7 linked regions of the Homo sapiens genome follow. The protein of the gene in region 7 purifies or fractionates together with the protein of the main gene of each other region. This does not show direct contact. Each region holds a gene or a part of one and is shown on either strand. Other genes may lie near its edges. The genes, in order: RNASEL, NLRX1, TAMM41, CAND2, POTEF, LMBRD2 and LPAR4.

Region 1 (3,061 bases), on a different chromosome or scaffold from region 7:
TGGATTTTTTAAATTGTTCTCATTTCACATATAATTTGTAGGAATGAAAACAATACTTACTTTTTATGCTTTTCTTCATCAATGTGTTCTCCCAAATTCCGGATGAACTTTAGCAGATCACCCACAGTGTTCTGGTAGAAATTGCCTCTTTTTTCATAAAACTTATTCATTTTTTTCATAACACATTCATTAATCTAAAAAAACAAAAAATAACACAAAAATGTGGTAGCAACACAAAATAAATCCTGATGAAATATTCATACCAAAAGGCAAAATATAAATTTGAATATATTCATATATTCTATAATTACCAACTAATTAATAAAGCAAAATAATTTAAAAATGGAAGTAAATGCTGTATACCAAAATGCTAACTATAATTGTGTCTGGGCTGGGTGGGGTGGCTCACATCTGTAGTCCCAGCACTTTCAGAGGCCGAAATGGGCGGATCACCTGAGGTCAGGAGATTGAGACCAGCCTGGCCAACACAGTGAAACCTCGTTTCTACTAAAAGTTTCTGCTAAAAAATTAGCCAGGCGTGGTGGCGCTGCCTGTAATCCCAGCTACTTGGGAGACTGAGGCAGGAGAGTCACTTGAACCTGGGAGGTGGAGGTTGCAGAGAGCTGAGATCGCACCACTGCACTCCGGTCTCAGTAACAGAGCAAGACTCCATCTCAAAAAAATAATTTTTTTTTTTTCAAGACGGAGTCTCACTCTGTCACCAGGGCTGGAGTACAGTGGTGCGATCTTGGCTCACTGCAACCTCCGCCTCCCGGGTTCAAGCGATTCTCCTGCCTCAGCCTCCCGAGTAGCTGGGATTACAGGCACCCGCCACTATGCCCAGCTAATTTTTTTTTTTTTGTATTTTTAGTAGAGACAGGGTTTCACCATGTTGGCCAGGCTGGTCTCAAACTCCTGACCTCGTGATCCACCCACCTTGGCCCCCAAAGTGCTGGGATTACAGGTGTGAGCCGCCACACCTGGCAAAAAAATTAAAAAAATTTTAAAATTAAAACTATATATATAATTGTGTCTGGATGTGAGATTATAAGTATGTTCAAATGTGTGTCTGTATTTTCCAAGTAAATTGTTTTCATAAGAAATTAAATATATTAAAATATGGTTAAAAAATCTTTGACTACTATACTAGGAAAGTCGTTCATTATACTATACAATATTTTTATCCTGTGGCCACCCTTTCAAATTCGTACTTGATTACATGTCTTTCTTTAAAAGGGCTATTCAGACTGAAACTGGGCCTGGCAACCATGGCCAAAGTGAACGGTTTTGTTTGTTTGTTTTTGTTTTTTTAGGTATATTTCCAAAAGGAATAACTAATATTGTTAAAGTGATCACCCCGCCCAAAGCAATCTACAGATTCAATGCAATCCCTATCAAAATACCAACATCATTTTTCACAGAATTAGAGAAAAAATCCTAAAATTCACATGAAACCAAAAAAGAGCCCAAATAGCCACAGGCATCTTAAGGAAAAAAAAACAAAGTTGGAGGCATCACATTATGATATACCTCCAATTATTGTGCAAGGCTAAGATAACCAAAACAGCACAGTACTGGTATAAAAATAGACACATAGATCAATGGAACAGAATACAGAAGCCACAAATAAAGCCACATATCTACAACCAACTGATCTTAGACAAAGTCGGCAAAAACATACACTGGGAAAAAGACACCCTATTCAGTAAGTGGTGCTGGGAAAATTAGACTGCCATATGTAGAAGATTAAAACTAGACCTCTCTCTCTCAGTGTATACAAAAATCAACTCAAGATGGATTAAAGACTTAAATGTAAGACCTGAAACTATAAAAATACTAAAAGAAAACCTAGGAAAAACTCTTCTGGACATTGGTCTAGGCAAAGAATTCATGACTAAGACCCCAAAAGCACAAGCAATGAAAATAAAGAAACAGATGGGGTTTAATTAAACTAAAAACTTCTGCGCAGCAAAAGAAATAAACAGAGTGAACAAACAACCTGCAGCATGGGAAAAAAAATATTTGCAAACTATGCATCCAACAGAGGATTGATATCCAGAATTTACAAGGAACTCAAACAACTTAACAATAAAAAATAATAACACCATTAAAAAGTGGGCAAATGACAAGAATAGACATTTCTCAAAAGAAGACGTACAAATTGCCAAAAAGCATATGAAAAAATGCTTAACATCACTAATCATCAGAGAAATGCAAATTAAAACCAATGAGATATCATCTTATACTAGGGGCTACTATTAAAAAGTCAAAAAGTAACAGATGTTGATGAGGATGCAGAGAAAAGAATGTACTGAGTATCTGCCAAAATAAAGCTGTAACCTCTGCTTCACAGGCTGAAGCAATTCTCATGCCTCAGCCGCCCAAGTAGCTGGGATTACAGACGTGTGCCACAATGCTTGGCTAAGTTTTGTATTTTTAGTAGAGACAGGGTTTTGCCATGTTGGCCAGGCTGGTCTTAAACTCCTGACCTCAAATGATCCACCCATCTCGGCCTCCCAAAGTGCTGGGATTACAGGTGTGAGCCACTGCACTCAGCCCAAGAAATCTTATATCAAAAAGATACCGGCACTCATATGTTTACTACAGCACTATTCACAATAGCAAAGATATGGAATCCACCTAAGTGTCCATCAACAGATGATTGGATAAAGAAAATGTGTCTGGGCCATTTCAGCCATAAAAAAGAAGAATGAAATCATGTCTTTTGTGGCCACATGGACGGAACTGGAGGCCATTATTTTAAGTGAAATGACTTACAAACAGAAAGTCAAATATCACATGTTCTCTCTTATAAGTGGGAGCTCAATAATGTGTACACATGGATGTACAGAGTGGAATAATATAATTGGAGACTTGGAAAGGTGGGAGGGTTGGAGGGAGAGGGATGAGAAATTACTTAATGGGTACAATGTGCGTTATTCAGGTAATGGTTACACTAAAAGCCCAACTTTACCACTACACAATATATCCATGTAACAAAACTATACTAGTACCCTCTAAAATTTATATTTTAAACAAGGTTACTTGCTTCTCCTTGCCT
Region 2 (3,500 bases), on a different chromosome or scaffold from region 7:
GGCGGATCACAAGATCAGGAGTTTGAGACCAGCCTGGCAACATGGTGAAACCCTGTCTCTATTAAAACTACAAAAAAAAAAATTAACCAGGTGTAGTGGTGCACACCTGTAATCCCAGCTAGTTGGGAGGCTGAGGCAGGAGAATCATTTGAACCGGGAGGCAGAAGTTGCAGTGAGCTGAGATCGCACCATTGCACTCCAGCCTGGACAATAGAGTAAGACTCTGTCTCAAAAAAAAAAAAAGAGAGTTGGACTAGATCATCTTCGAGAGTCTCTTGTAGCTACATAAGTCTAGGAACTTGTCTGATTTTACTTTACATACAACAGAGATTTACTGAGTGCCTGCCGTACCGCAGACCTGGTGTTAAGTTCTAAGTAAATAATTGTGAACAAAAACAGACGTAAAGGGGACAAAAAAATTTTAAAACACCCAAATGTGATCCCTCTCATGGAGGAGAGAGGAATGAATGTTAATCGAATAATCACACAATGAAATATAAAATTGCAAAATAACTGCTGCAAAGGGGCAGTACATGCTGCTATGAGAGCAAATACTGGGGGGTTTGATGTAGACATGGGTTCTGTGTATTGCATGGGATCTGCAGATGCTATTTCTTCCTTCTCTCTGTAGATGATCGTATCCCCTTCCTGATCCACTGGAGTTGGCCCCTTCAAGGGGAGCGTCCCTTTGGGCCCCCTAGGTGAGGCCTGGGTGTCATACCTTAGGACTAGTCTGGGCACAACAGAGCAGACTGGGAAGGGTCAGGACTTGGGGCTAGCTTGATCTCTTGGGGACCTTGGGGAGGGGCTTGGTCCTTTGGGGGTGGGAGGACAGTGGCAGCTCCAAGGCCTGAGAGGAAGTTGGCTTAGATCATCTGTGGTAGAAGGCATAGTAGTCAGTGGAGGGAGGACCCTGTGGGAAGTGGGTGGAGCCTCACATGGCCAGCCTGAGTTCCAGGCGGGCAGTCAGCAGTGGGGTCTGGAGGGCTAGGGCTAAGGCCTCAGCACCTGGGAAGGGTGTGAGAGTCAGACAAGCCTCTAAACTTGGGGGTCCAGTGTGGGGCCTTTATCTCAGGAAACCAGAAGTCTAGCAGTGCAGATAGGCTTGGACCCAGAGCCTGTGAAGGGGCTGATCCAAGTTACAAGTCCCAGCTCATCCCCTCTCCTTGTTCCCAGGGCCTTTATACGCCACCACGGAAGCTCGGTAGATAGCGCTCCCCCACCCGGGAGGCATGGACGGCTGTTCCCCAGCGCCTCTGCAACTGGTAAAGGGACTGGCTGGGACCCTGGTCAGGGGGTGTGGTGGGCAGACGGGGCTGGAAGGAGAAGCAGGGTGAGGGAGGCATAGAGGATCCACTGCCATCTTCCATCGGTGGTCCCTCCTCCTCTCTCTCTCTCCCTCCCATCCGTCTATGTATCCCTTCCTGCAATACTCTTGCAATGCACACTTATATGTACAAAGCGCTAGGAGAGCCATACCATCCCTATGCTCAACAAAGTTGGGTCAAGCAGGTTAAGACGGCACATAGGTCACTGTGAAACCAGTTTGTCCAGTGGCTTCCCACTTTCTGACATAGGGGTTCCAGACTTTCTGGACAGTCTATATTTTCTCAGGGAGTCTTGTGTGCCCACCATTGTGGGCCCCAGCATCTATGCCGTGATGTCCCAGCCTGACCTCACCACCGCCCTGATTGGCCCTAAGCTACATCTCCAGGCCCCTTTCCCTGACACATTTCCCTTATCTTCCCACTCAGAAGCTATACAGCGGCACCGCCGGAACCTGGCTGAGTGGTTCAGCCGGCTGCCCAGGGAGGAGCGCCAGTTTGGCCCAACCTTTGCCCTAGACACGGTCCACGTTGACCCTGTGATCCGCGAGAGTACCCCTGATGAGCTACTTCGCCCACCCGCGGAGCTGGCCCTGGAGCATCAGCCACCCCAGGCCGGGCTCCCCCCACTGGCCTTGTCTCAGCTCTTTAACCCGGATGCCTGTGGGCGCCGGGTGCAGACAGTGGTGCTGTATGGGACAGTGGGCACAGGCAAGAGCACGCTGGTGCGCAAGATGGTTCTGGACTGGTGTTATGGGCGGCTGCCGGCCTTCGAGCTGCTCATCCCCTTCTCCTGTGAGGACCTGTCATCCCTGGGCCCTGCCCCAGCCTCCCTGTGCCAACTTGTGGCCCAGCGCTACACGCCCCTGAAGGAGGTTCTGCCCCTGATGGCTGCTGCTGGGTCCCACCTCCTCTTTGTGCTCCATGGCTTAGAGCATCTCAACCTCGACTTCCGGCTGGCAGGCACGGGACTTTGTAGTGACCCGGAGGAACCGCAGGAACCAGCTGCTATCATCGTCAACCTGCTGCGCAAATACATGCTGCCTCAGGTGGGTGGCCCTTTACCCCAGGTTATCACTGCTGCCCGTTGACTCGCCCCCTAGGTCCTGGGTTACTTTAACTCCTGGTCCCTTCACTTCCCAGTGGTGCGACCCTGAGCAAGTCAGTAACTTCCCCAGCCTTCTGTTCCTTTCTTTTTGAGTTGCTCTGATCAAATGGGGTACTGCATATAATATTAGCACAGCGGCCTGGATCACAGCAGGTGTTCAGTAATTGCTAGTTATAACTGTTATCCTCATCAATGTCTTCATCCTTGGACACTCCGTCTTCAGGGGTCCCCTGGGAATAGAAGCAGTCAACAGGACACTAAGGTCTTTCTTAACTCTCAACCATGCTCTTCCCAGGCCAGCATTCTGGTGACCACTCGGCCCTCTGCCATTGGCCGTATCCCCAGCAAGTACGTGGGCCGCTATGGTGAGATCTGCGGTTTCTCTGATACCAACCTGCAGAAGCTCTACTTCCAGCTCCGCCTCAACCAGCCGTACTGCGGGTATGCCGTTGGCGGTTCAGGTGTCTCTGCCACACCAGCTCAGCGTGACCACCTGGTGCAGATGCTCTCCCGGAACCTGGAGGGGCACCACCAGATAGCCGCTGCCTGCTTCCTGCCGTCCTATTGCTGGCTCGTTTGTGCCACCTTGCACTTCCTGCATGCCCCCACGCCTGCTGGGCAGACCCTTACAAGCATCTATACCAGCTTCCTGCGCCTCAACTTCAGCGGGGAAACCCTGGACAGCACTGACCCCTCCAATTTGTCCCTGATGGCCTATGCAGCCCGAACCATGGGCAAGTTGGCCTATGAGGGGGTGTCCTCCCGCAAGACCTACTTCTCTGAAGAGGATGTCTGTGGCTGCCTGGAGGCTGGCATCAGGACGGAGGAGGAGTTTCAGCTGCTGCACATCTTCCGTCGGGATGCCCTGAGGTTTTTCCTGGCCCCATGTGTGGAGCCAGGGCGTGCAGGCACCTTCGTGTTCACCGTGCCCGCCATGCAGGAATACCTGGCTGCCCTCTACATTGTGCTGGGTTTGCGCAAGACGACCCTGCAAAAGGTGGGCAAGGAAGTGGCTGAGCTCGTGGGCCGTGTTGGGGAGGACGTCAGCCTGGTACTGGGCATCATGG
Region 3 (3,500 bases), on a different chromosome or scaffold from region 7:
TACTTTTGTAATTTTTGCAGAGACAGGGTCTTGCTCTGTTGCCCAAGCTGGTCTCAAACTCCTGGCCTCAAGTGATTCTCCCTCCTGGACTTCCTAAAGTGTTGGGAGTACAGGCGTGAGCCACTGCACCTGGCCTGGGTTCAGAGTTTTGGATAAACATCAGGGCAGTGCTGGGGAAAATGCTGTGGAACGTGGGCCATGTCTGAGGGAATGTACTCAACAATGTATGAGACACATCAAATGGAGTTGATTGAGGAAAGCTGTGTTCTCGATGTTATAAAAGCACAAAAAAATGCCACCAATCTCTTTTCTCAGACCACCACAAAACACAGACACATCTTTTAAATAAATTCTAGAAGTTGTGCTCTAGGAACCAAAAGAAACATTGTTTCTCCCTTTGACAGTGATTTAGGATCCAGGAATTTAAAAACAGAAGTATTTTCACCATCTTACTTCAAACAAATAAAAATGCAGATTTAGAAAACCCTCAAATTTTTAGTGCTTTCTTCTTCTGAGAGGCAATCTCTCTATCTCGCTAAACAAAAAGGAAGAAATAATACATTCCAATCACAAACAAAGTCTGCTTTTCCCCATGGCTGGCATTTCCTCAACATCAAATTCATAAACGTACCTAGTCGCACCACATCTCCACAGTCGGGATCATGAGCCACTTGGAATAAAGTTTCTTCCACATCTCTGTTTTTTCCAGGAGGGTCCATAATATGATTTATCTGTTGCTGTAAGGTTTTGGGCAATGTCATCAGCTGAGTGAACTGTCCTTCTGGGCTTTTATCTATCTGAAGGGAGGAAAAAAAAGACGACGTCTATGGAAGTGCTTTAAATCCTACAAATACTCCAAAACTCAGGGCTTCTCTTTAAAAATCACACAAACATATATGCACCCACACCCCTGGCGAGGCAGCAAGCTAAGGAAACTCTCTTTTTCTGAAACTGAATGGGTAAGTGTTCAGGAGTCTAAGTCCCTTCAAAAAGGACAATTCTTGTCCTATAATATTCCATTTCTACCTGAGAAAAGAATAGAAGCCACTCTCAAGGATCAATTTCTGACTTTTGGTTTTAAAATTTATATTTGTCTTAAATCCAGCAGTCAAAGGAAGTGGTGCTGCAGTTGACACTCGTGGAGGCCGCGTCAAATCCAGGCACTGAGATGACCCCTCCCATTTCAAACACAGGGAGACTGGCGTGCCCTGATCACATCACCAATGAGAGTAAGTGGGATCTGAATTGTGTCTCCTGCCTGTAGGGCCTTTTAGTATGCTGTATTTCACAAACTGTAGGAATACACTGATGACAGAAACTAATCTTACTTACTTTTAATCCCCAGCACACAGTAGGTACTCAAAAAACAATAAGGAAATGAGTAACTGAATCAATACAACTTAGTTGTCCTAAAGCTACTATGCCAGCGGCTTCGGTTCCCAAAGTATTCTAAAACATACTAAGGTGCTGAAGATAAATATATAAATAAAACATGTAAAACTATGTGTCAGACTTTACTCAGAAACCCTTGAATCAAAAGTTAGCCACAGAGCTGAGGCCAGACCTAGCTTTCCTAACTCCAAGTTTCATACACTGTGCCTCGTGGAATGAATTTTTAAAAATCTTGTAAACATTGATTTCCTGCCAAGTGCAGAACCAGTAACACTGCCCTCAACAGCCCATCACATTATTTCCCAAGGAAGAATCTGTCTTGTATCCTTTTAACAAATATTTAGGTTTTAACTTCAACTAAGAGAAGAGTAAGAAAAAATCAGATCAATGTATTACATTTTAGGCTTAGAGTTTACAGATAGGACGAACTTTCTTAATAATTAGAATCCACTCATTCTACCATTTTTTAAATTGAATAAATATTTATTAAGTACATACCAAATGGGCCAGGAGCACAGGTTCACACCTGTAATCCCAACAGTTTGGGAGGCTGAGGCAGGAGAATTGCTTGAGCACAAAAATTCAACATCAGCCCTAGCAAAAGAGTGAGATATCCGGCTCTACGAAAAAAAAAAAGAAAACAAAAAAAAGCCAGACATGGTGGTGCAAGCCTACAGTTCTGTCTACTTGGGAGGCTGAGGTGGGAGGATCACTTGAGCCTGGGAAGTTGAGGCTACGATGAGTGGTGATTGTGCCACTGCACTACAGCCTGGGTGACAAGACCAAGATGGTATCAAAAAAAACAAAAAAGTATATACCAAATACCTGAATTTTCTAGTTTTGTCTATAAACTCTATGAAGAGAAGGAGAAAAATGTTATTATTTAATGGCTCCATAAAGCTAGAGGGGTAAATATTTAGGTTTTTATCTAAATATTTGATATTTATCACTAGGATGGTTCTAAATTCACAGGCCCCATCCTCTACTTAGCTTTGGCTACAAAAATGACAACAAATTTGAGTATTTATGTAAAATAATCTTAGAAATGACATTTATGGACTTATGTTTTGAGGCCACATATTGGGATTAGTTAGAATAAACTTATATTTAAGTTATGCTTTACCTATGAAGCTTCCAACGGCTTGAGTGACATATAAAAAAATTAGAAAGTACTTATCTGCCACTGCTTTCTCTTGAGGAAAATAATGCACTGGAATTTTCACTTGAAAGCATGAGTGTAAAGATAAAATACCAGGTGACATGATTTAAAAATTTGGTAAATTCTCATTTTCCTTACACTAACTCTCATTAAAATAACGAAAGTGAAAGCATTCAGCTAAACTGTGAAAGTCAAATTGCATTTTAAAAGCGGACATGGATACAATTATTATATGTCAACTTAAGAAAAAAGCAGATATGGAAAAAACTTTATATGATTCCATGCATATGAACTGTCCAGAACAGAAAAATTACAGAGACAGAAGTGGATTAGTGGTTGCCTGGGTGAGGGGAGAGCTGGGGACGGCTAAAGGGTATGGAGTGACAGAAATATTCTAAAATTACATTGTGGTGATGGCTGTGCAGCTCTGTGACTATACTATAAACACTAGCTTTTATGGTGTATGAGGTATTCATCAATAAAGCTAATATTTTGTTATTATTATTTTTGAGACAGAGTCTCGCTCTGTTGCCCAGGCTGGAGTGCAGTGGCGCGATCTCAGCTCGCTGCAACCTCCATCTCCTAGGCTCAAGTGATTCTCATGCCTCAGCCTCCCGAGTAGCTGGGATTACAGGCGCACACCACCATGCCTGGCTAATTTTTGTATTTTTAGTAGAGATGGGGTTTCACCATGTTGGCCAGGCTAGTTTTGAACTCCTGGCCTCAACTGATCCACCCACCTCAGCCTCCCAAAGTGCTGGGATTAAAGGCATGAAGCTGCCATTCTCTCCCCCTGGCCAAAAGAGTAAAGAAAAAATAAAACCATATCCCAGGACGAATGGCAGAGATGAGCACCACCTGTAGACCTAAAAGATGCAAGGGTAAGGCAGATAATTTTATGTGTCAACTCAGAGCAGTGGCACAGCCTGAAGACACTGTCCTGCGAGGA
Region 4 (3,500 bases), on a different chromosome or scaffold from region 7:
TCTACTAAACAAAATACAAAAAATTAGCCAGGTGTGGTGGCGGGCGCCTGTAGTCCCAGCTACTTGGGAGGCTGAAGCAGGAGAATGGCGTGAACCCGGGAGGCGGAGCTTGCAGTGAGCCAAGATCATGCCACTGTACTCCAGCCTGGGCGACAGAGAGAGACTCCGTCTCCAAAAAAAAAAAAAAAAAAGATTTTAATGGAGCTGCCCTATACAGGCATGCCATTTTAATCTTTTCTACCTTATTTTTACTGTACCTTTTCTATGTTTAGACACACAAATACCACTCTGTTACAACTGCCTACAGTACTCAATACAGGTTTGTAGCCTAGGAGCAACAGGCCACACCATATAGCCTGGGAGTGTAGTAGGCTCTACCATCTAGGTTGTGTAGGCACACTCTATGAGGTTCACACAAGGACAAAATCGCCTAAGGATGCACTTCTCAGAATGTTTCCCCGTCGTTAAGTGCCACATGATGGTGGATTATTTGGGCAGTGGGCATGGTTGGGCTACAAGGAGACCCACATATGTGTGACACCAACTGCCACATAGTGGCAGACTAGCAACGGCTCAGCATGCTGGCTAAATGCATAATGTTTCAGGATCGGTGGCCCCCGCCTCAGCCATTTATGAGTGTGAACTTGGGCAAGTCATTTCACCTCTCCAAGCCTTAGTTTACCTGTCTGAAAACAGGGATGAGACTAGTACCTGCCTCATGGTGTTTTAAGTGCACATGGTGTGTGCTCAGTAAATGGCACTGCCATTATTATAATGGCACAGGACATCATCCACATCTCACAACAGCTGAGAAAGTGATGCCAGAAGGTTGTTTTGTTTTGTTTTGTTTTTTGAGATGGAGTCTTGCTCTGTTGCCCAGGCTGGAGTGCAGTGGCACGATCTCAGCTCACTGCAAGCTCCATCTCCTGGGTTCACACCATTCTCCTGCCTCAGCCTCCCGAGTAGCTGGGACTACAGGTGCCGGCCACCACGCCCGGCTAATTTTTTGTATTTTTAGTAGAGGTGGGGTTTCACTGTGTTAGCCAGGATGGTCTTGATCTCCTGACCTCGTGATCCGCCCACCTCGGCCTCCCAAAATGCTAGGATTACAGGCGTGAGCCACCGCGCCCAGCCAAGGGATACCAGAAGGTTGAACAGACACCTTGTGTCCAAGTCAGAGCTAGAGGCCTGTCTGCCAAACAGATGGAGGAGGGCGAGCCCTGTCCACTCCCATCTCAGAGAACCGGCTCAGTCCCTGCCCTTAGAGCAGTGGATCTCCAGCTATAGCCAGCATCAGAATCACCAGCAGCGCTTGTTAAATAATACTAGTCCCCATTCCCAGAGTTTCTGAATCAGCAGGTCTGAGTTGGGGCCCAGGAATCCACATTTCTAACAAATTCCTGGAGGACACTGAGGGTCAGGGACCACACTTTGAAAACCACTGCCCCACGCCATGCTGATGGGCATGGGCATATTTTGGAGACCAGCGCCAATAGCTGACTGGCTCACTGACCTAGGGTGGGCACCAGAGGCAAGGGCTACCCACCCGGAGGTGAGGGATTCATGGGGCCTGACACCAAAAGCCTGATGCTGTCCCAGGCATTTGAAACTGCAGTGGGAGTCTAAGCTGGAAGCCACGGAAAGTTGAGGCTGGGGCCAACTTTCCAAGTCGAGGAATGGTGCGGGAATTGGGCACCATTCCCGCCAAAATTAAGAGGGTAGGAGCAGAGGTCTGAAACTAGTAGCCCTCAGCTGTGTCCAGCTTGCAAACATGTTTTCAAAAATTTAAATTACTTGTCAACATTTGAACATTGGGAAAGTTGACACAAAAATACTGACTTTGGCCTGGCATGGCGGCTCACGCCTGTAATCCCAGCACTTTAGGAGGCTGAGGCGGGTGGATCACCTGAGGTCAAAAGTTCTAGATCAGCCTGGCCAATATGGTGAAACCCTGTCTCTATTAAAAATACAAAAATTAGCCGAGCGCGGTGGCAGACACCTGTAATCCTAGCTACTGGGAAGGCTGAGGCAGGTGAATCACTTGAACCCGGGAGGCAAAGGTTGCAGTGAGCTGAGATCGTGCCACTGCACTCCAGCCTGGGTAACAGTGCGAGTATCCATCTCAAAAAAAAAAAAAAAAAAAAATACTGATTTCCAGGCTGGGCGCAGCAGCTCACGCCTGCAATCCCAGCACTTTGGGAGGCCAAGGTCGCCAGATCACTTAAGGTCAGAAATTAGAGACCAGCCTGGCCAACAGGGGGAAACCCCATCTCTACTAAAAATACGAAAATTAGCCAGGTATGGTGGTGCACACCTGTAGTCCCAGCTACTTGGGAGGCTGAGGCAGGAGAATCACTTGAACCCAGGAGGCAGAGGTTGCAGTGAGCCAAGATCGTGCCACAGCACTCCAGCCTGGGTGACAGAGTGAGACTCAAAAAAAAACAAAAACAAAAACAAAAACAAAACACTGACTTCCAGATTATCTTGAAAACAGAATATTTGAGTACAACGGGGCCTACAATCCCTGGTGACAATACCTGATTAGAATCAGGTTGTGGCTGCCCTCTCCCCAGTTCACCTGGTCCCCACTAGGCCCACTTCACCCACTGACTGGCTCCTGCAGGCATGTGAGAGCGGAGTCTCAGGAGAAAACAGGACAGAGCAGCGAGGAGATACTGTAAGGCTGCCTCGGAGAAAGCCTCCAGCTTTTACTGACCCTGCTGGGCCACTCTACCACCCCACGCTGGCCCTGCTTTCCAGCATGGTTGAGCAAATCAACCAAGAGCCCTGACCCCCGCCTCCTGTGGCAAAATCTATCACAGTTGGGATTCTGGCTCTCATCTGTGCAGACTCAGACCTGCTCCTAGATGTCACTGCAGCCCACAGTGCCCTGTTACCAGGGGTGGACTGGTCGATGACCTATTTATTTTTAACAGGTAGATTAGCCACAAGTTGCTAGGAGAGAGAAGGAGGCTGGGCTGGCAGCATGGGCAGGATGGCAGGACTGACTGTGCCCACCTCTGGGCAAAGGTAAAGTGAAGGAGGAGGTTTGGATTTGAGCCAGGCCAAGGCCTGAGGTGAGCACATGCACCCCTACGTCTGCTCAGCTGAGGGGACATTCTGAGATGGCACCCAGGGTCTCCAAGTTGTGTTTCTGCTGCAGTCCATGGGGGCCCAGCTCAGCCTGGCAACCCAGGCGATGTGCCTCTTTGCCCAAGATAGGCCTTCTATCCCCGCTCTTCTTCTTCATCTGTTGAGCTCCTCCTATTCACCCATCAAGAGCCCAGCTCAAATGTCCCAGCTCAAGGATGACTGACCTCCCTGCCCTACCCCTGCATCCACAGCCCCTAAGCACAATGGTTCCCTGGACAAGATCCTTTCAGAGCACTCTGCACCCCTCCTTTATAGCACTTCTCACACTGCAATACAAGTCTGGCCACCAGAGCATCTTCTCCATTGGACTGTACACTCACTGAGGGCAGAGGCTCATCAGGTTTATC
Region 5 (3,500 bases), on a different chromosome or scaffold from region 7:
GCACTATCTCGGCTCACTGCAAGCTCCACCTCCCGGGTTCACGCCATTCTCCTGCCTCAGCCTCCTGAGTAGCCGGGACTACAGGCGTCTACCACCGCACCCGGCTAATTTTTTTTATATTTTTTAGTAGAGACAGGGTTTCACCGTGTTAGCCAGGATGGTCTCAATCTCCTGACCTCATGATCCGCCCGCCTCCCAAAGTGCTGGGATTACAGGCGTGAGCCACCGCGCCCAGCCAAAAAGCTCACATCTTAAGAAAATTCAATCTTCCTGTTCAAGCACAGGAACCATCTTCCCATTTCAGTTTCCTTCTAAGGTTCCTCAGTAAAGAACATATTTACATACTGTACATTGATATAAAATCCATACTGGATTTTATTTGAAGAATATTTAGCCCTGAAGTTGATGTGTTATGGGGCTTCGTTCTTAGTTCTCAATATACACTTTTCTATAATGTATAGAACATTGTTTTAAAATCTGTAGATTAAAAATAATCTGCTGCATTGACTTAATTAATTTTGCAAGTTAAATCACTTTAAAACAGTCTATTAGTGTTCTATGAGGGAAATTATGATTGGAAATCAGCTAAAGTTTTGTTTTTGTGTTGCTGTTCATAAAGGGCCCTGTACCCTGACCTCTCTGAGGTTTCCACATCCAGGGTGGTGTGAGGCCTGCGGAGGCGAGAAAGCCAGGTCCCCCTCCTCCCCCGCCAGGAGGGTATGTCCCCATCATCCCCCCACGTCCCACCTCCTCCCAGCCCAGGCCTGGTTACCTCTTTTGCTTGTCCTGCTTGTTCACGTCAGTGTCCCTGAGCATGACGATGAGATCCTTTCTGGGGACTTTACCCCACCAGGCAGCTCTGTGGAGCTTGTCCAGATCTTCTCCACGGACGTGGTACCTGGGCTCCATGAAGGCACTGTCATCGTAGTCTCCCCAAGCGCCCACCTTGCTCTTGCTGCTCCCCCTGCAGCAGGGGAAGCAGTGGCAGCACCACTTGCCCATCTTGTTCCTGAGTGTCTTCATAGCAGAGTCGTCGTGGTCTCCAGAAGCGCCCACGTTGCTCTTGCCACTCCCCCTGCAGCAGGGGAAGCAGTGGCGGCACCACTTGCCCATCTTGCTCCTGAGTGTCTTCATAGCAGAGTCGTCGTGGTCTCCAGAAGTGCCCACGTTGCTCTTGCCGCTCTCCCTGCAGCAGGGGAAGCAACGGCAGCACCACTTGCCCATCTTGCTCCTGAGACCAAATGGCTTCTTCACAGAAGAGGCAGCCGGCATGGAATCAACCTCAACCACCATCTGCTTTTAACAGCCAGGAGAAGCCAGTAGTAGCCAACAGATCGCGTCTACCAACCAGTTTCACCAACTAGCAGGTAACTCCGGGTTTCCAATCTGTTTGAAGAGAAAAGTCAATCCCAGCCAAAACCTGCCAACCCCAGCAGGGGATTCCAGCCCAGCCCACCCCACCCAGGGAAAACCCACACCCACCCGAGGAAAGCCCACGCCCCCCCTGGGCGACCCCACGCCCACCCCAGAAAGGGCCAACCCCCGCCCCCAAGAAAACACCCAGCCCACCCAAGGGAATGCCAAACCCAGCAGAGAAAAGGTCAAGCCCAGCAAAGGAACACGAGAGAGAAAACGTCAATCCAAGCAGGAAACGTCAATCCAAGCTACCAACGCCAAGCCAAGCCAAGAACGCAAAGCCAAGCCAAGCCGCTACAGGCCAGCCAAGCCGTTAAAGCGCGTGCAGCATGCGCGTGCAAGCCATTACAGGCCAGCCAAGCCGTTACGCGCGTGCGGCGTGCGCGTGCAAGCCGTTACAGGCCGGCCAAACCGTTATGCGCGTGCGGCGTGCGCGTGCAAGCCGTTACAAGCCAGCCAAGCTGCTGCCGGGCGTGTGCGCGCGGCGTGCGCGTGCGCGTGCGGCGTGCTTATCTCAGGTGGCGTCAGGGCACGTGGCACAGACACTGGCCGATGCATGCAACGCGCCTGCTTAAGTCTTGGCGCCACGAATGTCACTGACAGCCTTGAGTTCCGGCAAACTTCGTGGGAGTCAGCTGAGCTTTCAAGCCACTGAGAAGCCTCTGGTGAAAAAAAAAAAGCCTCTTAAAGGAGGACTGGGGCTAAGCGTCTGGAACTTGAGGATGCTGACAGCCTCCTTTGAAAAAAGCCCCCAGGACACTCCTGGCGGTGCTGTTGTGCATGGCAGCAGCTGCAGCTGGGAGCTCGGGCTGACGGAGCTGGCTGCAAATGGCCTCAAAATCGCGGAGCACAAGACGCCCACCGAGCCCAGGGCCTGCCTGAGGTGCCTTCAACACCTGCTCCTCTTTGCTCCGCACCCAGAACACGAGGCCATCAGCAAGGGGGCATTTGGGGCCACAGGATTGCAGCCAGCTCCTGCCCCGGTGCAGTGTATACAGTGTATACTGCACAGGTGTTGGGTGCACCAAAATCTCCTGAATCACCTCTAAAGAACTTACTCATATAATCAAACACCACCTTTTCCCCAAAACCCTAGGAAATAAAATGAAGAACTTTTTGTTTATGCATACCACATATTTTTTAACTTTTTTCACAGGTTCATTGAGATACAATTTATATATTATTTAATTCACTCATTTAAAGTATAAAATTCAGTTTTTTAAGTGTATTAACTAGTTAAACAATCACCATGATTTTAGAACATTTTTATGCTCCTTAAAAGAAACTTTGCACCCATTAGCAATCTTTCCCTATTTTCCCCATTCTTCCTTTAAACCTCTCCCAGCCCTAGGCAATCATCCATCTATTACCTAAGAATTTGCCTATTCTGGAAGGATTTGCCTATTCTGGACATTTCATGTAAGTGGAATCATAATAATATAGTTACGTGTGACTTACTACTTTCATTTATCATGTTTTCAATGTTCATCCTTTTTGGAGCATGTATTAATATGTTTTTCTTTTTCATTGCCAAGTAATATTTTATTTTATGGACAGACCACATTTTATTAATCCACTCCAAAATTCATGGACATTTCTGTTGTTTCCTACTTTTTGTTGCTATAAATACTTTTATGTGTAAGGCATTTGTTTTAATTTATTTTTGGTGTATACATAGGAGTGAATTTACTGAGTCATGTGGTAATTCTGTATTTAACCTTTGAAGAACGGCTTCATTTTTCTGCATGTGGCTTGCCAATTATACCAGCAGCATATGTTGAATAGGGTGTCCTTTCCCATTTTCTTGTTTGCTTTGTCAAAGATTAGGTAGTCTGATGCCTCCAGGTTTGTTCTTTTTGCTAAAGATTGCTTTCGTTTTTCAGCATCTTTTGTGGTTCCATTCAGATTTTAGGACTAATTTTTCTATTTCTGTGAAGAATGACATTGGAATTTGACAGCGGTTGCATTTAATCTGTAGAATGCTTTGAGTAGCATTGAAATTTTGACAATATTAATTTTTTCAATTGATATAGGACTTTTTCTATTTGTCACTTTCAATTTCTTTCATCAATGTGCTATAATTT
Region 6 (3,500 bases), on a different chromosome or scaffold from region 7:
GGGCCAGTGAGATAGGAAAATTAGGACAATGAAGTGTTTTGAGGAAAAGAGTATATAAAGTACCTTTTCAAATGTTGCACATAGATTAAGGATCATATATATTAAGACCTGACCATTGGATTTTAGAGAAGTGAGGGGAGAGGATAAAAAAGTCTGACTGTAATTTAAAAGAAATAAGAAGAGGAGCAATTGGAGACAGACTAGAAAACTCTAAAAATGTTTTCCTTATAAAAGGGAACAGAGAAAAGGGGTAGTAGCTGAAAGAGGATTGGGGGCATAGTCAAGAGAAATTATCACATGTAATTAGTAAATGATATAATAGAATTTGAGGCCAGGCGCGGTGGCTCACACCTGTAATCCCAGCACTTTGGGAGGCCGAGGCGGGCAGATCACAAGGTCAAGAGATTGAGACCATCCTGGCCAACATGGTGAAACCCCGTCTCTACTAAAAATACAAAAATTAGCTGGGCGTGGTGGTGCGTGCCTGTAGTCCCAGCTACTCGGGAGGCTGAGGCAGGAGAATCACTTGAACAGGAGGCGGAGGTTGCAGTGAGCCGAGATTGTGCCACTGCACTCCAGCCTACCTGTAGTCCCAGCTACTCGGGAGGCTGAGGCAGGAGAATCACTTGAACCCAGGAGGTGGAGGTTGCAGTGAGCCGAGATTGCGCCACTGCACTCCAGCCTACCTGTAGTCCCAGCTACTTGGGAGACTGAGGCAGGAGAATCGCTTGAACCCGGGAGGCAGAGGTTGCAGTGAGCCAAGATTGCACCACTACACTCCAGCCTGGGGACAGAATGAGACTCCGTCAAAAAAAAAAAAGAAATAAAGAGAGAGAGAGATGAAAGAAAAGAAAGACAAAAAGAAAGAAAGAGAGAAAGAAAGAAAGAGAAAGAAAAGAAAAAATTCATAGAATTTGATAAGACAATAGAGAATTTCTAAGACAATGTTCATGACTAGTAGAGATGAGATGGTGGGAAATAGTGAACAATGAAGAGAATGGTGGAGGTAAGGCACAGATGTAACTAGCTGAGAAGGTGTAGTGTTAGAAACTTGGGAAAATTCTCTGATCGCTTCTGTTTTCTCAATGAAATGTGGAGAGTAAGTATAGGAGAGGAGATTTTAGAGATTTGAGGAGGGAAGAGAAGGTGCAAAATAGTTGCCTAGGAGAGTGGCATGGGAGAAGATTGGGGAATTATAGTAGGCTAGTGAGGCAGTACTGAGGACCCACTTGAAGCTAGTGATTAAGAATTTAAAGTGAGGCCAGTCAACAAGGTGGGGTGTCTTTCTCCTGCAATGTGCAGCTGTGTGGATGCAGGCTGAGAGTAGCCAGCGAGTTGGATTTAAACAGGTGTGATTTAGCTTAGCAGGTACAGTGGAGCAAAATGGGGCAAAGTAAGTGGGATACTGTCCTCAAAGACTGGAATCTGAGCTGCATGAGGAAGGAAGGGTATCAAAGTGTTAAATAACGGTAAAATGTGATAGAATAAATTGATTTTTCATCCAGGTATGGTCAGTTAGTGGAGTTGAAATACTGTACTAGATGAAGGTATTGTTTGAAGACAAGGATGCTGGAATGTGATTATATGGAAGGGCTGGAGATATTGATAATAAAAGGTTTAGGCATCACTATAGCAACAAGTAATTGAGGTAGGGTGGAGGGAAAGTTCATTAGAGGAGAGGAGGTCAAAGAAATGAGAGATAAGGGTATTGAAAGGGGAATCATTTATGTGGATATTGAAATCACTAGGAATTATGAGAGGAAAGTTGTAAAGAATTACAGTGAACCAGAAGCTAACTATTCAGTAAATGAACTAAAAATATAGCTTTTTAATTTATTGAGCTTTCTTTTTTAAATTTTTATTTATACCTAAATTCAGACTTAAAACCAAAATAGTGCTGGGAGTGGTGCCTCACACCTGTAACCCCAACACTTTGTGAGGCCGAGGTGGGTGGATCATGGGGTCAGGAGATTGAGACCATCCTGGCTAACACGGTGAAACCCTGTCTCTACTAAAAATACAAAAAATTAGCTGGGCATGGTGGCACGTGTCTAATAAAAATACAGAAAATTAGATGGGAGTGGTGGCACACGCCTGTAATTCCAGTTACTTGGGAGGCTGAGGCAGGAGAATCACTTAAACCCCGGAGGCAGAGGTTGCAGTGAGCCGAGATCATGCCACTGCACTCCAGCCTGGGCGACAGAGCGAGACTCCATCTCAAAAAAAAAAAAACAAAAAACCAAAACAGTACAAAATATTCCCATATACCCTTCAACCAGGCTCTCCAATGTTAATATTTTGCCATATTGATTTGCTTTTTCTGTATGTATTTTTTTATTACTATTTTAGAGTTGTATCCAGACATGATGCCTCCTTGTTCCTAAATGTTTCCGTGTATATTTTCTAAAAATAAAGATATTTTCTTACATAGCCAAATACAGCCATCAAAATAAAAAAATTAATATTTATACTCTACCATTATTTACAGACCTTATTCAGATTTTGCTATAATTATCCCAATAATATTTTTTGTAAAAAATCCCAGATCATGCATCGCATTCAGTTGTTGTGTCTCCTTAGTTTCCTCTAATCTGACACAGTTTCTCAGTCTTTGTGTTTTATGATATATCAGAAATGTTTTGGGGAGTATAGGCCAGTTTTTTGTTGAATGTCCCTGAATTTGACTTTGATGTTTCTTTAAAATTAGACGCAAGTTCTGCATTTTTCACAGGACTACCACAGCAGCAATGTCACATTCCTATCAGTACATCATAGCAGGAGGCACATGATGTCAGTTTGTCCCATCATGGGTGTCATTTGGTTAGGTTCGTATCTGCCTGGATTCTCCACTGTAAAATTGCTGTTTTTCTCTTTGTAATTAAGTATCTTATTAGGAGCTATTTTGAAACAATGTAAATATCCCATTACTCTTTTGTAGTTTTCCTAATCATTTTTTTCTTTTGTCTTCTAGAATGGTACTGGGAATGTCTTTTGCGACCATGGTTTTACAAGATACTTGCTGTGGTTCTGTCCATCTTCTCTGTGATTGTTGTGTGGTCAGAGTGCACATTCTTTAGCACTACTCCTGTCTTATCCCTCTTTGCGGTCTTCATACAGCTGGCAGAAAAAACATATAATTATATTTATATCGAGGTCAGTTTATTTTATGTCTGTCATAAATAGATGTCACTTCATAGTATAATCCTTAACTATTTTCTCCATGTATTTCTTCTAGTAAAAATGAAAGCAGTGAGGTTTTCTGCAGTGTTGTTATTCAAACTTCCAGAAATGTGCTTCATTATTTTACCCACACTATAGAAATTAATAACTGTATTTGAGGAGAGATGAAAAGTTGCAAGATAGTGCAGAAATCTGAGATTTTTTTTTTCTTTCTGTTTTTTTTGGAGGCAGAATCTTGCTCTGTCACCCAGGCTGGAGTGTGGTGGCATGAACATGGCTCACTGCAGCCTCAACTTCCCGGGCTCAAGAAATCCTCTCAC
Region 7 (3,500 bases):
TCAATCATTTTATTTTTTATTTGCATTATGTTTAACTGACAAATCATAATTGAACTACATTTATGTAAGTACGAGGCGATGTTTTAATATATGTATACTACATGAGGTGATTATGTCAAGCTAATTAACACATCCATCCCCTCACTTCAGTTTTATGTTTCCAGGAACATATATATTACACCCACAGCAAGCAGCCTGCAAATGCCTGGCACTTCTGCTCTGCTGCTCTGAGTAATCAAACTTTGTGGGAGAGAAAGGACAGACAAGAAAACATTACATTCTCAATCCTGAAGAGAGGGCATGGGAAAACTGCCACTGTGGCCCTATTCATAGCTCCCATTGCTTGAACACACAACCACCTTTGCCGTCTAGAAGTGAGGGTGTGGCGCTGGGACTTAACACAGCATTAGAAGCAAGGAGTTCTATTTCTGACTCAGACACTGGTTCACTCTGTAACTTGGCTATACTCTCTCTCTTCCTTGTATAAACTTTACCTCTAAGCCTCACAGCTAAAGCTAGGAAGATTCAATAGGGCTTGTGAATTGCTTTATGAGCTTGCTAGTATTCGGCCCTACCTAACTACAGAGAAACATTATGTAAGTTTGTTTCTTCCTCCCTTCCTGAAACAACTGTAACTTTATATTTCTGTCTTTTTTGGTATACTGAAGTTCACATTAGGAACACATCCTTCTAGTGTCATGTATACCTTGTGCCTCAGAAAGCTCCCCTTGAGTTTCAGCCTTAACTACACAATTTACTCAAACAGGACAATCCAGGAGTGTGCCCTCAAGGTAATATTTCCCATACAGGTATGATTAAAAAACCAGAAAGACATTTGGCTCTTGAGATGATTCTGAAGAAGAATCAATATTAGCCTCTTTTCTTACTGGCTTCCTTTCTTTTGACTAAAAGAAACAGCATTTCTAACTATTAGATCTTCCTAAATAGCCAACATATTGTGCACTAAATAGAGGCAAAGGACCAACACTTGAGCTTCAGATGAAATGAAGAAGGAAAAATATATGCTGATGCAGTTAATTACATTTTCCACTGCAAGGAGCATTAAACTACTGTCTTCTGCAAACCTCTGCTCCCAATTATTCTGACAATTAATCACCTAAGGGTGTCAGAGAGTGTTGGGTAGCTGCATTTTTATTGACAATGGACAGGAAGCAGGTCCCGTGGAGGTTGACCAAAAATAAATCTGACCCTCAACTTTTAACTTCAATCTACACCTGGAGCTAATTCAGAGTGGCCACAATTGTTTCCTCTTTTTTAAAAAATTTCTAATGATAGTAAAATACAGGTATACCATATTTGGGGTCCTTAAGGCTCCTGGAAGAAGTAAAGTTAGCCTTTTGGCCCTATAAGGATAAATAACCAAATCACTTCACTTCATGAAGTGCTAAACTTTCAGATCATACATTGAAAACAAAGCTCCAACTTCTGGCATAAATATGCCCGGTACCCTAGAAAAGCTGACTTGCTTTTGCTCCCTACAGAGGACAGTCCAGAGCTCAGGAAGACAAGGCCTTGAAGGCAGAGTATACTAAAATTATTTTTGCTTTGCTCCATTTTTAATAAGCGCAGGCCAGGTCAGAGTGCTTCTGATCCCCAGAGCATTTCCTTGTTCTACTCTGGTCAAAGTTTATGAAAGTTGACACAATAGTTTTCAGAGGAAGATGAAATCTATTGTGTTCTTATGTATAGATACTTAGCAGTGAAGCAGATTTAAAAATACACAAATGTTGTGAAAAATACAGCTCAAAACAATCCTGCTGGAGCGATAGGGAATATGTTCAGACTGTTGCTTCTCAAATTAGTGGTTTCTAACAGATAAGACTCTAGGTCAAGTCACAGGCATAGGTCACACTCATACAGGTTTTATATCAGTGTTCCTATACATTGGTTGATGCTTCATAATAGTTTTTGAAACAAAACCTAGCTTTATGGCATTCCATATGGAGGGAACCATAGATAAATGTTTCACTCAAGAATGGAGCTAGGAAATTGATCTAAATCAACCTCTTTTATTTTTGATGCAAGAAATAGCCTTTTAAAAGTGGCTTATCTACACCTAATCTGGTTTTCACTAAGATTATTAAGGCTGCTTTGTCTCTCCATTTTATTTGAGGAAAACAGGAAACTGATATGGGCCTCAATTTGATAAAATCCTGTTCTCAGTGATTAACTTGATATTTTTTTTTCTTTTCATCAAAAAAGAAAAAAAATACTTCAGTCTCTTATTAACACTTCACTTGATAACACAGTCCAATCTTTGGGAAATAATGTGGTCTGGTGCTCAACATGATGGGGCCAAAGATTGCATCAGCCCTACTAAAGTAGAATTTTCCCTAGTACTTAGTTACAGAGTAAGAAAACTACAGGTAAATTGCTCAACCTAATATTATAAAATTGTCTTGAGTCTTGAGACTCAATATCTCATCTCAGCAGAAGCCCCAGATCTTTGGGGACAATTTTTGGGTGTTCCCAAAATAACTCATTTCCAATTTCTGTAAGGGTCATATATACCAGCCAGGATTTTGACATTATTCCATATATTTGAACAGGTAAATCAGTTATCAATTTGGACACCAATTCATGTGATATACTTAGACACTGAAACTGATAATAGCAATAAAAAGAGTCTCCCATATCTAAAGGTAAATCCCAGTGGCAGAGAGGGGTTGAGCTAAAGAATCAATATTCATCTTCATCAAAATTGCCTGGATTATAACAAATTACAATTCCTCCATCCATTCTAGATCTTCGGATGATACAATCTTTAAAAAGTTGGAACTATTTGTTACAACAAAAGTTGGAGAATTAAATTAGGAATTTGCAGTTTCTCTACACATTTTCAGGTTATTATTATTATTTCAGTAATTTTCAGGAGGGTAGGACTCACCACATTAGTTCGAACCAAATCCTGGCACCAATTTTATCTAAGACTGGAATAACCAATGAGTTTCCTGGAGGCACTGTAGTTAGAGATTTCCTCCAATGGGTGCTGTGAAATAGAAATAGTCATAATAGTGTGCCATAAAGAGAGCTGATAGCTTTTCAATAAAATGTATATTTTCAATAAAATGATCTTATAGAAGATCATAAGACAGAAAAAGTATTATATGATATAAACCAGAGTAAATGAGACCCAATAAATTTTAAAATGGTATTTACATGCATTGGATTTCATTATTACAGAATTGCAGATAACAATGTATTTTCCAACCTGTCACTGCTGTGCTATATTTTTTTAGTAGTATTGACTAAACACTAGTGCATAAAATCCATATGTGGTAACCTATAATAATTTAAAGATAATGAGTGACAAAAGACATAAAAATATTTCCTCCACTTCCATAAGGTAATGCATTACATTAAAAATACCAAAACAAAGGAGAATTTTGTTTTGGCATGAACTTACATTGGGTCTTTTTTTTTTCTTTTTTTCTTTTCTTGGCAACAACTGTTACCATTGGGCAGGGTCCTTAATAAGG

What was found.
Region 1: the proteins of LPAR4 (region 7) and RNASEL purify together in Homo sapiens (affinity purification with mass spectrometry; 2 studies listed by BioGRID and IntAct, with this or other methods). This does not show direct contact.
Region 2: the proteins of LPAR4 (region 7) and NLRX1 purify together in Homo sapiens (affinity purification with mass spectrometry; 2 studies listed by BioGRID and IntAct, with this or other methods). This does not show direct contact.
Region 3: the proteins of LPAR4 (region 7) and TAMM41 purify together in Homo sapiens (affinity purification with mass spectrometry; 2 studies listed by BioGRID and IntAct, with this or other methods). This does not show direct contact.
Region 4: the proteins of LPAR4 (region 7) and CAND2 purify together in Homo sapiens (affinity purification with mass spectrometry; 2 studies listed by BioGRID and IntAct, with this or other methods). This does not show direct contact.
Region 5: the proteins of LPAR4 (region 7) and POTEF purify together in Homo sapiens (affinity purification with mass spectrometry; 2 studies listed by BioGRID and IntAct, with this or other methods). This does not show direct contact.
Region 6: the proteins of LPAR4 (region 7) and LMBRD2 purify together in Homo sapiens (affinity purification with mass spectrometry; 2 studies listed by BioGRID and IntAct, with this or other methods). This does not show direct contact.

Annotation. Positions count from the first base shown.
Region 1 is NC_000001.11:182,576,196-182,579,256, forward strand, and holds part of RNASEL (2-5A-dependent ribonuclease), read right to left. Parts: intron 195-3,061; coding exon 61-194; intron 1-60.
Region 2 is NC_000011.10:119,171,725-119,175,224, forward strand, and holds part of NLRX1 (NLR family member X1 isoform 1 precursor), read left to right. Parts: intron 1-631; coding exon 632-701; intron 702-1,176; coding exon 1,177-1,265; intron 1,266-1,754; coding exon 1,755-2,374; intron 2,375-2,728; coding exon 2,729-3,500.
Region 3 is NC_000003.12:11,808,886-11,812,385, forward strand, and holds part of TAMM41 (phosphatidate cytidylyltransferase, mitochondrial isoform a precursor), read right to left. Parts: intron 2,013-3,500; coding exon of another isoform or gene 1,891-2,012; intron 798-1,890; coding exon 632-797; exon of another isoform or gene 1-631. UniProt on the Homo sapiens protein: Catalyzes the conversion of phosphatidic acid (PA) to CDP-diacylglycerol (CDP-DAG), an essential intermediate in the synthesis of phosphatidylglycerol, cardiolipin and phosphatidylinositol.
Region 4 is NC_000003.12:12,799,680-12,803,179, reverse strand, and holds part of CAND2 (cullin-associated NEDD8-dissociated protein 2), read right to left. Parts: intron 1-3,500.
Region 5 is NC_000002.12:130,119,223-130,122,722, forward strand, and holds part of POTEF (POTE ankyrin domain family member F), read right to left. Parts: intron 2,077-3,500; exon of another isoform or gene 1,387-2,076; 5' UTR 1,294-1,386; coding exon 773-1,293; intron 1-772.
Region 6 is NC_000005.10:36,117,388-36,120,887, reverse strand, and holds part of LMBRD2 (G-protein coupled receptor-associated protein LMBRD2), read left to right. Parts: intron 1-2,971; coding exon 2,972-3,153; intron 3,154-3,500. UniProt on the Homo sapiens protein: Recruited to ligand-activated beta-2 adrenergic receptor/ADRB2, it negatively regulates the adrenergic receptor signaling pathway. May also regulate other G-protein coupled receptors including type-1 angiotensin II receptor/AGTR1.
Region 7 is NC_000023.11:78,750,720-78,754,219, reverse strand, and holds part of LPAR4 (lysophosphatidic acid receptor 4), read right to left. Parts: exon of another isoform or gene 3,491-3,500; 5' UTR 3,428-3,490; intron 3,011-3,427; 5' UTR 2,909-3,010; intron 1-2,908. UniProt on the Homo sapiens protein: Receptor for lysophosphatidic acid (LPA), a mediator of diverse cellular activities. Transduces a signal by increasing the intracellular calcium ions and by stimulating adenylyl cyclase activity.